Homo sapiens: one gene and its partners. Changing the gene in region 1 together with any one later gene gives a genetic interaction. Each region holds a gene or a part of one and is shown in the gene's direction. Other genes may lie near its edges.

Evidence for each region. Genes that interact genetically often act in the same process or in processes that back each other up.
Region 2: changes in RB1 (region 1) and ELMO2 together harm fitness more than expected from each alone (negative genetic interaction), as found in Homo sapiens cells (one large-scale study listed by BioGRID).
Region 3: changes in RB1 (region 1) and SAP130 together harm fitness more than expected from each alone (negative genetic interaction), as found in Homo sapiens cells (one large-scale study listed by BioGRID).
Region 4: changes in RB1 (region 1) and UMPS together harm fitness more than expected from each alone (negative genetic interaction), as found in Homo sapiens cells (one large-scale study listed by BioGRID).

Annotation. Positions count from the first base shown.
Region 1 is NC_000013.11:48,380,251-48,386,068, forward strand, and holds part of RB1 (retinoblastoma-associated protein), read left to right. Parts: intron 1-996; coding exon 997-1,193; coding exon of another isoform or gene 1,194-1,205; exon of another isoform or gene 1,206-5,818. UniProt on the Homo sapiens protein: Tumor suppressor that is a key regulator of the G1/S transition of the cell cycle. The hypophosphorylated form binds transcription regulators of the E2F family, preventing transcription of E2F-responsive genes.
Region 2 is NC_000020.11:46,382,616-46,386,115, reverse strand, and holds part of ELMO2 (engulfment and cell motility protein 2), read left to right. Parts: intron 1-2,621; coding exon 2,622-2,700; intron 2,701-3,500. UniProt on the Homo sapiens protein: Involved in cytoskeletal rearrangements required for phagocytosis of apoptotic cells and cell motility. Acts in association with DOCK1 and CRK. Was initially proposed to be required in complex with DOCK1 to activate Rac Rho small GTPases.
Region 3 is NC_000002.12:128,018,060-128,021,559, reverse strand, and holds part of SAP130 (histone deacetylase complex subunit SAP130), read left to right. Parts: intron 1-3,500. UniProt on the Homo sapiens protein: Acts as a transcriptional repressor. May function in the assembly and/or enzymatic activity of the mSin3A corepressor complex or in mediating interactions between the complex and other regulatory complexes.
Region 4 is NC_000003.12:124,743,952-124,747,451, forward strand, and holds part of UMPS (uridine 5'-monophosphate synthase), read left to right. Parts: coding exon 1-133; 3' UTR 134-3,500. UniProt on the Homo sapiens protein: Bifunctional enzyme catalyzing the last two steps of de novo pyrimidine biosynthesis, orotate phosphoribosyltransferase (OPRT), which converts orotate to orotidine-5'-monophosphate (OMP), and orotidine-5'-monophosphate decarboxylase (ODC), the terminal enzymatic reaction that decarboxylates OMP to uridine monophosphate (UMP).

The DNA of each region.
Region 1 (5,818 bases):
ATTTTCATAAATAAACACTTTTGTTCAATTTAAAGTTAAAATGTGGTGTGTTTCTTTGGTCGGGGGAGAGGGATAGTGTGAGGTTAAGGAGAAGGAATGCTTATTTTAGATCACTATATACTGAAGAATGTAATTGGTCATTATAAGCCATTTAAGAGGCTTATTTGAGTTATTTGAGGCCATCTTGGGGATAATATTTCACTAGGCTTCTCTTCTGAGTATACTGGTATACTGAATCCAAAAAAGGTACTTTTTGAAATCCCTCCGAAGACCTTTGAGATTGTAGAGTGCCAAAGGAGTATTCAAGAGTGGCCTCTACTGATATGGAAGCACTGCTGTAACCTCCATGGTTATGAAACTAAAGATTGAAGCTAGAATCCACTGGATAAACAGAACAAAGGCCAATTACAATGTTTTTAAAAACATAAATGTATATCACTTTGCAAATTATGTTGCAAATGTTAAAAGAAAGTTTTGCTTGCAGAAACAAAAGGAACATTTGTATAAGGATGCAAAACACAGAAAAAGAGGAACTTTTAGTTTCCTTATTAGTAAACAGATAAGGAAAACTGTGAATCCTCATTTATAACCAAGAAATGCATATTTTAATGAGATACCATTTTGTAACTAATGAAATTAGCAGAATCTTGAAGAATCTGTCTATCCTCTTACCAAGGATTAATGAGAATTAAAATAGATATGCCAATGGCTGATAAGATACTAAACCTGTTCCTGATATAAGTTTAGGGTATTTAAATCTTTGAAAATTTGAGATCAGCTATAAGTCCTTTCTCTAGGAAAAACACAGATTTGCTTACACTCAAAATTGGAAGGCTATTTCCTATGAGTCCGTAGACTCCAAAATAAAAAATTCTGCTCTAAATAAAAATGGTTTAACCTTTCTACTGTTTTCTTTGTCTGATAATAACTTCCAAAAAAATACCTAGCTCAAGGGTTAATATTTCATAAATAGTTACTTTTTTTTTTCATTTTTAGGAAGTACATCTCAGAATCTTGATTCTGGAACAGATTTGTCTTTCCCATGGATTCTGAATGTGCTTAATTTAAAAGCCTTTGATTTTTACAAAGTGATCGAAAGTTTTATCAAAGCAGAAGGCAACTTGACAAGAGAAATGATAAAACATTTAGAACGATGTGAACATCGAATCATGGAATCCCTTGCATGGCTCTCAGTAAGTAGCTAAATAATTGAAGAAATTCATTCATGTGCATATGGCTAACAAATTATTGTTAGTGAGAGGTGTTTCTTAACATCTACCTCAAGAACATATAGGGAATTTAATGAATAATGTTATTTCAGTCTATAGCCCAAGGATCAAGTGGAATATTAGAATGGAGCTTTAATCGAGCACCCTAAACCATCTAATACAGCACAGTGATTTATTTAAGAATAGCTTTTCTTAAAACATGCCACTTTAAAACAAAACGGATTTTTTTTTTATACTTTAAGTTCTAGGGTACATGTGCACAACGTGCAGGTTTGTTACATATGTATACATGTGCCATATTGGTGTGCTGCACCCATTAACTTGTCATTTACATTAGATATATCTCCTAATGCTATCCCTCCCTCCTCTCCCTACCCCATGACAGGCCCCAGTGTGTGATGTTCCCCACCCTGTGTCCACGTGTTCTCATTGTTCATTTCCCACCTATGAGTGAGAACATGCAGTGTTTGGTTTTCTGTCTTGGCAATAGTTTGCTCAGAATGATGGTTTCCAGCTTCATCCATGTCCCTACAAAGGACATGAACTCATCCTTTTTTATGGCTGCATAGTATATATGTGCCACATATTCCATGGTATATATGTGCCACATTTTCTTACTCCAGTCTATTATTGTTGGACATTTGGGTTGCTTCCAAGTCTTTGCTATTGTGAATAGTGCCACAATAAACATACGTGTGCATGTGTCTTTATAGCAGCATGATTTATAATCCTTTGGGTATATACCCAGTAATGAGATGGCTGGGTCAAATGCTATTTTTGGTTTTAGATCCTTGAGGAATCGCCACACTGTTGAACTAGTTTACAGTCCCACCAACAGTGTAAAAGTGTTCCTATTTCTTCACATCCTCTCCAGCATCTGTTGTTTCCTGACTTTTTAATGATCGCCATTCTAACTGGTGTGAGATGGTATTTCATTGTGGTTTTGATTTGCATTTCTCTGATGGCCAGTGATGATGAGCATTTTTTCATGTGTCTTTTGGCTGCATAAATGTCTTCTTTTGAGAAGTGTCTGTTCATATCTTTCACCCACTTTTTGATGGGGTTGATTTTTTCTTGTAAATTTGTTTGAGTTCTTTGTAGATTCTGGATATTAGCCCTTTGTCAGATGGGTAGATTGTAAAAGTTTTCTCCCATTCTGTAGGTTGCCTGTTCACTCTGATCGTAGTTTCTTTTGCTGTGCAGAAGCTCTTTAGTTTAATTAGATCCCATTTGTCAATTTTGGCTTTTGTTGCTATTGCTTTTGGTGTTTTAGTCATGAAGTCCTTGCCCATGCCGATGTCCTGAATGGTATTGCCTAGGTTTTCTTCTAGGGTTTTTATGGTTTTAGGTCTAACATTTAAGTCTTTAATCCATCTTGAATTAATTTTTGTACAAGGTGTAAGGAAGGGATCCAGTTTCAGCTTTCTACATATGGCTGGCCAGTTTTCCCAGCACCATTTATTAAATAGGGAATCCTTTCTCCATTTCTTGTTTTTGTCAGGTTTGTCAAAGATCAGATGGTTGTAGATGTGTGGTATTATTTCTGAGGGCCCTGTTCTAAACCAAAACAGAATTCTTTAAAGTATTTAGATAATTTATTTAAAGTACAGTTGTTATATATTTGAAAATGCAAATGTCTGCTCTTAAATTGTGAGATTATGCTATTTAGATTATTAAAAAGTGCATTTTTTTCTTGTTAAATATAGTAGGATTCATTTTTTCCCATTATTAAAGTATAAAAATGTATACTATTGTTCAATTATAGGTATTGGTTCAATCAATATAGGGGCACAAATTATATTGTCTAGGATTCTCTTTATAGCATTATAACTATTGATAAGGCTTTTGTTTTAATAAAAGTGGCAACTTGAGGTTATGCTCTTCAAATCAACATAGTTGGATAATACTTTGTGAATCATCAGTTTTGTAAATTAATGGTTTCTTTTGAAACTGTGTTGCATGCTAAGTATATATCTTTTAATTTGTATCAGTATATAGAAGTGGTAATTAAAAAATTAAGACTTTAGGTATGCCATAATCCTAATTTGCACATGTAACCTTAGTTTTAATTTCCTTACGTTTTGAATTTTTAATGACTAAGCGATAATTTATTTCTTAGTGTTTTCTTGTATTGCCATATAGACAGAGTGAATAGAGGAGAGAAACATGGGAAATTGATAGAAGAATGTTACACTCCTATTATTGAATTTCATAACTACTTATGGAATGAATTTACACTTGATAAGGAGTACTTAGAAGAAAACTTTCTGAATCTGGGTAATTAAGTGAAAGTAAAAATAAATAGATAAGTAAATAAAATAAGCACATAGAGTACTTTTTAAAGGCTTATGTGTCCTCTCCTCCCAGAAATTGATATTGAGATATTCCTGTATCATCTGAAAGTGACTATTGTTATTTCTTTTAGAGAATTAATTTTATTTCTATCAACACATATTTATTGAACATACGCCATATGCCTTGAATTGAGAGAGATACTGTGAAGATACAAAAAAGATAAAGGCTTGGAAAATTGTGGAGGATGTAATAGAAATTTACTGTTTAAAAATTGTTTGTACTCAAGCCTGTTTAGCTCAGTTATTTAGGGCTTCTAAACAATATTCCTTTATTTTTGAGAATTTTTGGAGAAAAAGTGACAAGCCCCAAATCTGGAAAAGAGTATGATTGATTTACAATAGGAGACGTGGAAGTCATAAGCCTCTGAATTTAAATATTAAATGTAGTATCTCTGGCAGATGAAACTATAGAGGACTTTTATTTAGTCATATATTTTTAGTGTTTGAGTCTTATATTACATTTTTAATCATAAAAACCTTGAGTGGTAGTGGATAACTTTGTGAAGATAAGTTATGCCACACAAACAGGATACTGTGTATTTTTCCTGTGAGAATAATTGACATTATAGAGAAGGGATATGGCATAGATACATTTGCGTTTTCACAGACTTTTTTTTAAAATTTGAAATATAACACATATTAAGAAAAGTATATATCTCAAGTGACAGTTTGGTGAATTTGTCACAAATTGAACACATCCGTGTAAACAACACCCAGATAAAGGCCCAGAGCAAGCTTTCATAGTCTTTTGATTCTGTGTCATAATAAAAAATTCTCGTTAAAACTGTAGATTGATAGGAACATATTCACACAGAGTTGTTGACTGAGGGAAATTTCAAATGAGGTGCTGCTTACTTCTCTCCTGCCAATAATTTAATGAAAGAAAGAACATCATCTTATTTTTAATGGTTGTGTGGGGAACTGGGTTCAGCATTTTTGCTTGACAGCCTTGAGATAAAATAAATCCATAAGGAAAAAGCCCACTTCTGTTTCTTTTCATCCCAGAGAGATTAATGGGCAATATATGAGTGTAAGATACTGGAAAAGTCTGTTGAGAAACCTAGTGAAATCTCATTCTCTGAAAAGTTGGGGGATTACAGGTGCTATCGAATGCATCATACCTAAGGGTTAGATGAAATGACTTCCAAGAGTTTGGCCCTATTAAATCTGTTAAGAGGTTTATAATGCCAGCAGGTGATGAAATGAAATTTGGATGCCTTAGTTTCAGTATTTTCAGAATTTATCATATTTTTTCAATAAATGTTTATAAATCAAAGTATGTCAGATGCTTTATTCCCTATATGATCTGTCTTTCCTGGACTATTCTGGACTCTTCCTATTGATCTCTCATTTGCTACCTTGAGACCATTTCTCTCACAGCAGCCAGAGAAATCTGCTCATAATGTAAATCTCATCATGCTAATTCCTCAGGTAAAAAACCTCCTGTGGAGGACATATTCATCTGGTAATGTTGGAAGAAGACCCTACCATATGGCTTTCTGCAAAAAAGACCACTATACTACCTGTTTGGAATACAAAAAGTAACTGACTGAAATTACTGGACAGGAAGAACAGATGCTAGTTGAGAAAGAGAAGAGGGGAGCTGGGAGCCTGAGGAGAAGGCTTTTAGTCTAGGGCTAAGTGCAGTAGGTATAGGGAAGGACAGTAAGGTAGGGCAGGGATGTCAGTGGGAAAACTATGGGTCTCTTCACCAGGAAAACTGGAAAATTGAAGCTAGGGAAACCTTGGCCACTGAAGAGAGTGGAAGAATCCTGCAAGGGAAAGAGCCAAGAAAGGGTACCCAGATTCTGTCTGAAATCTGAATAATTCCTGTGTGTCACAGACTCAGAGCAGCCAAATGAAGGGCAAAAGATCTGAACTGAAACTGGAGTTGCTGCCCAATAAACAGAACAGTTCAAGTTAAGCAAAGATAATTGCTTCTTACAACAAAACCATTCTCATTTTAGAAAAATAACAGAATTTAGGATCTTCACAATGTAACATTTATGATGTTCAGGATACAGTTCTAAAATTATCCAGCATAGAAAGAAGGTCAAAGAAACCAAATGCTGGTTTATAGAATAGGAGCTTTAGGCCAGGTGTGTGGTGCACACCTAATCCCAGCATTTTGGGAGGCTGAGGTGGGAGGATCATTTGAGCCCAGAAGTTCAAGACCAGCCTGGGCAACAAAGCAAGACCCCATCTCTTAAAAAAAAAAAAAAAAAGCTAGGTGTG
Region 2 (3,500 bases), on another chromosome or scaffold:
AAAACCCTACACCTCCCTCCCTTCACTTGTCTGTCCTCTTTTCTCCTCTTATTTTAAGTCTTCCAATCCTACTCTCCTTTGCTTATATTCCAAGCTGTTGGTTGGCTTCTTCATTCATCACCTCTTCCACACTCCTGCCAGAATTTCTCCCATCATTCAGACTTGATCATGTCATGCTCCTGCCCAAAATCCTCTGTAACTCTCTCTGCCCCTTAGGTTAAAATGAAGATTTTCCCAGTCTTCCCATACCAGGGTGGTACCAGGCAAAATTAGATGCTTTCTCACATGGGCCCAGTAGTCTCTGTACCTATGATAATTATATAAAATACTGGATTTTTATTATCTGTTGCCCATTTTGAACATAGAGCCCCCTTGAAACAGAGACCAATCATTGTTGTATCCCCTGTTTTGATTTAAGTAGAGGCTCAATTAGTGCTTGTTGAATGAATGCTCACTGAACCGACGATGCACTGTGGGTGATTTGTAAGAAATATCACACAGGTGTGAGTTTGGAATATCAGTTCAAATCCAGGCTCTTCTGCATACTAGGTCTCTGCCATCAGCAAGTAACCTAGTCTCTTCTGGCCTCAGTTTCTTCATCTCTAGAATAGGTTAATCACCTTCACCTCTCACACTGTGAGGATCAAAGGAGATTTTAAAAAGGTCCAGCATAGAGGCCAACCTGGGTTAGGTATTCAGTAAATTCAGGGGCTTTTTTCCTTTGTTTGTTTGTTAAGACTCTTATCACATCCTAAAACATTTTACCAGATACTGAGACCATATGACAAATGAACCCATTGGAGCAATGTTTCTCCCGTCTCCGCTGTTTTTACCTCACTTCCAACCAACCTACACCATGTAAGGAAGCTGGACTTTGCAAAACAGTGGTGGCACTCCTGTTGATTCTCTTCTGACTGTTGTTCACTTCTGTTTTTTAGACATTGTCAGAATGTTGCCAGAATCCCCCACCAGTTCGAGGGGAAGTCATAGCTCCCAGATTTGGGAGTTTATAGTGGCCCTGTCTTCACTCAGCTATGCTCCCAACTTGTTTTTCCCCACTAATCCAAGTAAAAAGAAAGCACAATTATTTCTTTGCAACTCTGATTTCTCCTTGTCACTTTTAAGGAATTTTCAGCCTCAGCTTTCTTTGCTTTTCTTTTTTGAGACAGGGTCTCACTCTGCCGTCCAAGCTGGAGCGCAGTGGCATGATCATAACTCACTGCAGGCTCAAGCGATCCTCCCCATCTCAGCCTCCCGAGTAGCTGGAATCACAGGCACACTCCACAACACCTGGCTAGTTTTTTTTTTTTTTTTATTTTTGTAGAGACAGGGTCTCGCTGTGTTGTCCAGGCTGGTCTCAAACTGTTGGGCTCAAGCAGTCCTCCCACCCCAGCCTCCTGAGTAGCTGGGACTACAGGTGTGAGTCACCATGCCTGGTCTAGCCTCAGCTTTCATACCCAGCGAGCCACCAAGGTTGATTAAGGTGAGAGGGACATTATAAACTCCAGATAGAGAATTCTGATTTTCCTGTAACCTCACATCTACTTCTCTGGTTTTTTTTTTTGTCTCTGAATTCAGAGTGGCCCCAGTTGCCTCCCTAGGGATGATAGGGGAACATGGCATTTCATAGGAGCCAATACTTTCAGCCCACAGCTGTCACCAGAACTTATATGCTTTCCTTTTTGGGCTGAGGGATACTTAGTGCCCTCTGTTAGACTCCCTGGGTACCATGTGACTAACCAGGAAGCCCATCAGACCCTCTGGAAAGACAGCCACAGAATGCACCCAAGACATGGCAGGTGGAGATGTCAAGTACCAGGATTGTAAGATTCCAGAGAATGATTGTAGTTATTTTGTTTGTTCATAATAAAATAAGTTTATAGTCAAAGACTTTAAAAATACAGAAAAACGCAAAATTATTTGCCCATTATCTCACCTCCAGACATACCCACTGTTAAACATTAAATTGAATGTCCCTTCAGTATTTTTATGCATATTTTTAACAAAATCGGGATCTCATTATATATACTATGTGTACCTTGATTTTTTTTAACTGAATAATACACCTTGAACATTTCTCCATGTCAAAGATTTTTCTAAAAGGGTAGTTCTAAGTCTTTTTTGCAACCTAGACACCTTTGAAAATCTGGTAACAAGTATATACTCTCACCAGTTTGGAAAAAATACCACTTAGTTGGCAAACTACATAGAATAATTTCTGTATCATTCCTGGGGTTCACAAATACTCTAAGCTCATCCCTGAATCCCAGGTTAAGAATCTTTACCCTAAAACATGACTTTTAATAACTACTTAAGATTCTCATATGTATAAATGTTGGCTAATGTGACCATTTGGATTACTTTCCATTCTTTTTTAAGTAGTACTTTAATGAAACGCCTTGTCAGTAAATCTTGCATAGCTCTCTGATTACTGTCTTAGGATAAATTCCTATTAGTGAAATTGCTGGGTCAAGAGCATGCCCACTTTGAATGCTTTTGAGACTGAGCTCCAGATCATTATTTGCTTATAATCTGTGAGTGATTGTTTTAAACCATTTCTAAGCATCATCTTGCTGTTCAGTCTTCTAATCTCCCTCTCTCTTCTTTCTCCATTGACACAGCTCCAACCAGGAGATTCAGACCTACGCCATTGCACTGATTAATGCACTTTTTCTGAAGGCTCCTGAGGACAAACGACAGGTCTGTGGCTGCCTTTTCACATTTTTCATCTGGGCTCTTCTGAGATAATTCTCACCCCATGCACTCTTTGCTATGCAGAGAGCACAAATCCAGCAATTTTCCCAAGAGTTCTTCCTCTTAGCTGTCTGGTCTGGAGCCCAGGAGGGTGGCTTTGCTAAGGAAGACCCAGGGAAGACCTATGAGGGGAAACCAGCTGGGTCTTAGATGAGAGCAGGGCCCTTCAAACTTTTTCCTCTAAAGGGCCAGAGAATAAATATGTTTGACTTTATGGGCCATATGGTCTATGTGATAGCTACTCAACCTTGCCATTGTAGCCAAAAGCAGCCTCGGCCAGTAGGTAAATGAATGGGTATGGCTGTCTTCCAATAAAATCTTATTTACAAAAACAGGCAACAGGCCTAATATGGCCATAGTTTGCCAACTCCTGGGTTACAGAATCAAGAATAAGGAAGAGGAGACCCTGTGGCTACCCTGAGTCCAAGGAGTCCAATATGAATGGGATTTCACACTAAATCTTAGGTTTAAAGGTTCTCTGATGGAGATTCTAAACATCTTCCTTCCCCTGTTCATTAACTGTGACATTATGCAGATAGCTCTGCCTCTGTGAACCTTAGTTTCCTCACCTGTCACATGGGAGCAACAACATCTGCCTTGTTTACCTCACAAGGATGTCTGAGGAAAAACAAGATCCCTGTTTCACAAATAAGGAAACTAAGAATCAGCTGGGTGGTGGAACAAACACTGACCTAAGAGCCGAGGGGCCTGGGACTAAGTATTCTCCCTGCTGCTGGCTGGACAAG
Region 3 (3,500 bases), on another chromosome or scaffold:
ATCAAAATTTTAAAAATTCTGAATGACCTGGGAGAAAAGTCAATATATAGTGAAAAAGAAAACGTATATCAGTCTTTTCTTTCCTCTCTGTTTTTTTGTTTTTTTTTTTTTTTGAGATGGAGTCTTGTTCTGTCGCCCAGGCTGTAGTGCAGTGGCGCGATCTCGACTCACTGCAACCTCCACCTCCCGGGTTCAAGCAATTCTGCTGCCTCGGCCTCCCAAGTAGCTGGGACTATAGGCGCCCGCCACCATGCCCAGCTAATTTTTGTATTTTTAGTAGAGACAGGGTTTCACCATATTGTCCAGGCTGGTCTCAAACTCCTGACTTTGTGATCCGCCCGCCTTGGCCTCCCAAAGTGCTGGGATTACAGGCTTGAGCCACCACGCCCGGCCACATCACTCTTTTCATCCAGCACTTGTACTTTTAGGAATTTTTTCCTGAAGAGATCATTGGACAAGATTGTTGATAAAAGCAAAAATTTGGAAATAACCTAAAAGCCCATCAATGATACAGTGATTTTAAAAGCTATAGTACATCTATACAATAGAATCCCATTTCACTTTTTTTTTGAGACAGAGTCTTGCTTCGTTGCCCAGGCTGGAGTGCACAGTCTTGGCTCGCTGCAACCTCTGCCTCCTGGGTTCAAGTGATTCTTCCGCCTCAGCCTCCCGAGTAGGTGGGATTACAGGCAACCGCCATCATGCCCAGCTAATTTTTGTATTTTTGTGGAGACGGGGTTTCACCATGTTGGATGATGGTCTTGAACTCCTGACCTCAGGTGATCCACCTGCCTCAGCCTCCCAAAGTGCTGGGATTATAGACATGAGCCACTGTGCCCGGCCCCATTTCACCTTTAAAAAATGATGCAGTATTCTCTACCCAGTAGTTCTAATCCTAGGTATATATTGAGTAGAAGTGGTACATATGTTCACCAAAAGACACGTACAAGAACATTACTAGCACTATTCAAAATAGGAACAAACTGAAAACTAAAGTGCCTCTTAAGAGTAAAATGGATAATTTGTACGTTACTCGTGTGTCGTACTATATACAGCATTGAGAATGAAAGATCTACAGCTGTGTACACTAATGTGAATGAATCTCATACCTGTAAGTGAAAGAGGCAAAGCACAATAGGGTGTATTTGTTATAAGTCTGTTTACGTAAAGTTAAAAAACAGACAATACTAATCTATAGTGTTACAAGGTAGAAGATTGATTTCCTTCGGAGGATAGTGGCTAGAATAGGGCCAAACTAAGGGTCTCTGGGGGACCAATAATGTTTTCTATCTTGAGCTGGGTGCTATTTACTCAGGTTTATTCAGTTTGTGAAAGTCCATTGAGCTGCACAGCTAACATTTGTGCACTTATCTTTATGAAAATCATACTTCAAGAAAAAAAAGTCAAATGAATAAAAACCCAAAATTTAAAAGAAGCGAGAACTGTCACCAAAACTTTAAGTGTTGGTGCCTTTGTGGGGTAAGTTTGGGGGCAACATTACTTTGTTTATGGTACTCCAAATAATTTAAATTCTCTACATAAGTAAATATTATCTTTATGCTCAGAAAAAAAATTATTTTGGAAAAATTATAGACAAATATGAGTTAATATTTTCACAAGCTCTTCCTTTATTACATCAGTATTGTTCTCTGATTTTTTTCCACTTAATTTTTTTTTTTTGACACAGAGTTTTGCTCTTGTCCCCCAGGCTGGAGTGCAGTGGCAGGATCTCCCAACCTCCACCTCCCGGGCTCAAGCAATTCTCTGGCCTCAGCCTCCTGAGTATCTGGGATTACAGGTGTGCACCATCACACCTGGCTATTTTTTTGTATTTTTAGTAGAGACAGGGTTTCACCATGTTGGACAGGCTGATCTCGAACTCCTGACCTCAAGTGATCTCCCCACCTTGGCCTCCCAAAGTGCTGGGATTACAGGCGTGAACCACCACGCCCGGCCTCCACTGAATTTTTAAATACTTAATTTTTAAATAGGCCAGGTGCAGTGGCTCACACCTGTAATCTCAGCACTTTGGGAGGCCAGAGGTGGGAGGAACACTCGATCCCAGGTATTCAAGACCAGACCAGGCAACATAGTGGAACTCTTTCTTCATAAAAAAATAAAAGAATTAGCCAGGTGTGGTGGCATGTGCCTGTAGTCTTAGCTGCTTGGGCAGCGGAGGCAGAGGCTCACTTGAGTCCAAGAGTTTGAAGCTGCAGTGAGCTGATATCCTGTGACTTCGTTACAGCCTGGGAGACAGAGTGAGACCTTGTCTCAAAAAAAAAATTTTTTTTAATTAAAAAAAATTTTTAAATAGATTGTCTTCTGGTAGACCAAAACACCAAAAGAAAAAGAGCATACATTGGAAAATATCTCTCCTATCTCTGTCCCTCAGTTTTGAAAAATTATATGTTCTTAAAGTTAGGAACCGTACTTAAAATATCTTTTTTTTTTCTTTTTTTTGAGATGGAGCCTCACTCTTGTTACCCAGGTAGGAGTGCAGTGGCGCAATCTCAGCTCACTGCAGCCTCCCATCTCCTGGGTTCAAGTGATTCTCCTGCCTCATCTTCCCTAGTAGCTGAGATTATAGGTGTGTACCACCACGCCCGGCTAATTTTTTTGTATTTTTAGTAGAGACGGGGTTTCACCACGTTGGTCAGGCTGGCCTGGAACTCCTGACTTCAAATGATCCACCTGCCTTGGTTTCCCAAAGTGCTAGGATTACAGGCTGTGCTCAGCCCCCAACCACCTTTTTTTTTTTTTTTTGAGACAAAGTCTCACTGTGTCATCCAAGCTGGAGTGCAGTGGCACAATCATGGCTTGGCTCACTGCAGCCTTGACCTCCCAGGGTTAAGTGATCCTCCTCCCTCTGCCTCCAATATAGCTGGGATTACGGGTGCATGCCACCATGCCCATTTAATTTTAAAATTTTTTGCAGAGATGGAGTCTTACTGTGTTGCCAAGGCTGGTCTTGAACTCCTGGGTTCAAGGGATCTGTTTGCCTTGGCCTCTCAAAATGCTAGGATTGCAGGTGCAAGCCACTGCACCAGCCATCCTTTTTTTTTTTTTTTTTTTTTTTGGAGACAATCTTCCTCTCTCGCCCAGGCTAGAGTGCAGTGACGGAATCTTGGCTCACTGCAACCTCTGCCTTTTGGGCTCAGGTGATCCTCCCACCTTAGCCTCCCAAGTAGCTGGGATTACAAAAAAACGTGGTTTTTGGTTTTTGGTTTGTTTTTTTTTTTTTTTTTTGTATTTTTAGTAGAGATAGGGTTTTGCCATGTTGGCCAGCATAAAATATCTTTTTAATGTCAGGCTTTTATAACTTTCTAAGAGGATGTTTTAAATGAAATTGTCTTACATCCTGTATTGTACTTTTAACTATTTCAGCTCATTTTAGATGATTTTCAGGTAGTTTGTTCATAAGGCTACAATATCCAGAATAAATTCTATATTCCACAGTTGTGGCTCTTTTGTCTGATGTCCATCAGGAGAATCCAGTGCCC
Region 4 (3,500 bases), on another chromosome or scaffold:
AGTTATTGGCAAACGAGGTTCCGATATCATCATTGTAGGTCGTGGCATAATCTCAGCAGCTGATCGTCTGGAAGCAGCAGAGATGTACAGAAAAGCTGCTTGGGAAGCGTATTTGAGTAGACTTGGTGTTTGAGTGCTTCAGATACATTTTTCAGATACAATGTGAAGACATTGAAGATATGTGGTCCTCCTGAAAGTCACTGGCTGGAAATAATCCAATTATTCCTGCTTGGATTCTTCCACAGGGCCTGTGTAAGAATGGGTTCTGGAGTTCTCATGGTCTTTAGGAAATATTGAGTAATTTGTAATCACCGCATTGATACTATAATAAGTTCATTCTTAAGCTTGCTTTTTTTGAGACTGGTGTTTGTTAGACAGCCACAGTCCTGTCTGGGTTAGGGTCTTCCACATTTGAGGATCCTTCCTATCTCTCCATGGGACTAGACTGCTTTGTTATTCTATTTATTTTTTAATTTTTTTCGAGACAGGATCTCACTCTGTTGCCCAGGATGGAGTGCAGTGGTGAGATCACGGCTCATTGCAGCCTCGACCTCCCAGGTGATCCTCCCACCTCAGCTTCCAGATTAGCTGGTGCTATAGGCATGCACCACCACGTCCATCTAAATTTCTTTATTATTTGTAGAGATGAGGTCTTGCCATGTTACCCAGGCTGGTCTCAACTCCTGGGCTCAAGCGATCCTCCTGCCTCAGTCTCTCAAAGTGCTGGGATTACAGGTGTGAGCCACTGTGCCCAGCCTAATTGCAGTAAGACAAAAATTCTAGGGCACCAAGAGGCTAAAGTCAGCACAGCTTTTCTTGTGTCCTGTATTCTCTGTCTAATGTGTTGCCCAAATAATACCTAATTGTTAGCCATTCCCCTCCATCTCTGGCCTAAAAGTGATAGTCCAGGTATCCACATGGGCTGGTTCCCAGAACTGCCATTGCTCACTCTCCAAAGAGGGGAAGGTGGGGAAGGGGAAGGTGACTATAGCTCAGCTCCTGAGCTAGTATCTGGCTGTTATTTCAACAACCGGAGTTGGGGTTTGGGCTCATTTTTTCCCCTAGCCAGCAATTATGGACCAGTAGTAACACAAGTGACAGCTTCCTGTGACTGACTTCACAATTAGGAGGTCTAAGATTCCATTTGGGTATTTGCTTAAGGATCCCACATAATTGTCCCAACGGTCATTAGTAGAGGGGAGGTAAGCCTTCATTAATAATAAAGAGAAAGCCCACATTCAAGGTGGTGTTTGAGCAGGGGCAGGGTGAGGGCTGTCCCGGTGCTCATTGCACCAGCACACTCACATTCCTTCTCATTTGGGGCCCACCTGCAGGAAGTGGCACAGGATCAGCCATTTCCCCACCCTTGTCAGCTGATGGCCCACTGTTCTTTAATGACTCAGAGGAATGCCTAGGATTTTTTTTTTTTTTTGAGACAGAATCTCACTGTCGCCCAGGCTGGAGTTCAGTGGCACGATCTCGGCTCACTGCAACTTCTGCCTCTCTGGTTCAAGCAGTTCTCCTGCCTCAGCCTCCCGAGTAGCTGGGACTACAAGCCTAGGATTTTTAACTCAGGTTTTTATTATATTCCCTCCTGAAGTTTTTACTTCAAGAGCTTCTGCTCTAAAGTCCAATTTGGGCTTCATGTCCCCAGTGCTGCATCTCCAGGGAAATGCTGTCTGTGGGAGAGACCAACTCTCAAGGAAGAAGTGGCCACAGAAGGAGCAGGAAGGGAGTTGGCCCTCAGGGCTACTCTGGGGAAGCCAAAAGTCATGAAGGGGAGAAGAATTTTCTGACAAAAACTTGCAGGAATCTCTTAGGTGTCTTCAGTGTTGGAGTGATATGTTGAGAGGCCTTTGGAGTGATGTGCTGAGGTCTCAGGCGCCCACCTCCCTGGCTGTCACTTCCATGTGTCAGTGGTTCTCCCACTTTAGCAGGTATCAGAGTCACCTGGAGTCTTGTCAAAACAGGTACCAGCCCCACCCGCAGCGTTTCTGACTCTGGGTAGCTCTGGGATGGGGCTTGAGAATTTGCGTTTCCAAAAAGGTCCCAGGTGATGCTGCGGTTGCCTGCGCAGGGACTGGACTTTGAGAACCACTTCACTGGTTATTCACATTTCTGCCTCTGCAGTGAGACAGCCTTGAGGTCTGCCTCCTGCTAAGAGTCACATGCTCCTGTCCTTTAGAAATGTGGGCTCCTGCCATCTCCAGGACGCAGGCACTGTTCCTGTTGATGAACCCTATTTCACAGGACCCCTGCTAAGGTGATTTGAGGGGAAATGAGAGGAGGCTCAAATAATCACCCAGCCCCTGCCACTTACTGAAAGTGTAGGTCCTTGTGCCCCACACCATCAGAGTTTCTGCGTTAGCAGATTTGTGGTTTGCCCAGCAGCCTGGGCGTGTGCATTTCTAATGGGTGCCTCAAGTGATCTGTTTCTGATTTGTATTTCTATTGTGAAGAGTCAGCCCAGTACTGCAGGCCTCTTACCTAAGCAGAATCCCAGTCTGGCATCAAAGCTTTAGAGGACAAGTTGATTCAGGCAGAGAAGAACTTGGGCTATACAAGCGCTGTTCTTCAGCATTGAAGTATTTTGGAGGCATTAGATAGTTTAACCCTTTCTCAGTCAAGGAATATTTACAGAACATGATCTCTGGGCATTGTAACTCCTGGTCTTAGTGGGGAATATAGGGACCCCATGTCTCCATGGGGTGCACAGAATGTCTGTGAGACTGATGGAGTGGAGAACGCCATCCCCCAGCCTCTCCAGCTACTCGAGGCATTCTGTAGAACATAAGCCCATAGATTGTGTGTGTGTGTGTGTGTGTGTGTGTGTGTGTGTGTGTGTGCATGCGCGCGCGTGCGCACTGGAGGAACCTAAGAAACTATTTGGTGCACTTCCTCTTATTTTAGAGCTCCCAAAGTGTAGCTCCAGAATCGTAAAGGGATATGCTCAGTCTCACAGCCAGCCTGTGGATCTCAGTCCCAACACTCACCCTTGTGCTACTGAGTCAGCTCTAAGAAAATCTGCCAAAAGTAGGCCGAGGGCTGGTTTTTTGTTTTGTTTTGTTTGTTTGATACAGGGTCTTCACTCTGTTGCCCAGGCTGGAGTATATCATGGCTCACTGCAACCTTGACTTGGGCTCAAGCGATCCGCTCAAGTAGCTGGAACTACTCTCAAGTAGCTCTCAAGAGCCTCTCGAGTGGCTGGAACTACAGGCGTGCACCACCACAGCTGGTTAATTTTTAAAATTTTTTGTAGAGACGGTGGAGGAGGTTCTCACTGTGACTCAGTGTGTGCCCGACAGCAGAGCCCACACCACTCCAGTTGCAGTGGTTGCCATCTGGGTCATCAGACCTGGCTGTCAGGGGTGCAGCCACAGGAGAGCCAACAGCAGAGGGTGCTGGCCGCTGAGCTAGCTGCTAATGCTGGCCTGGGTGCAGTTCTCATCCAAAGTACCCGGTGGGTGGGAGTCACTCAGTACCAGTTCCGAGCCTGAACC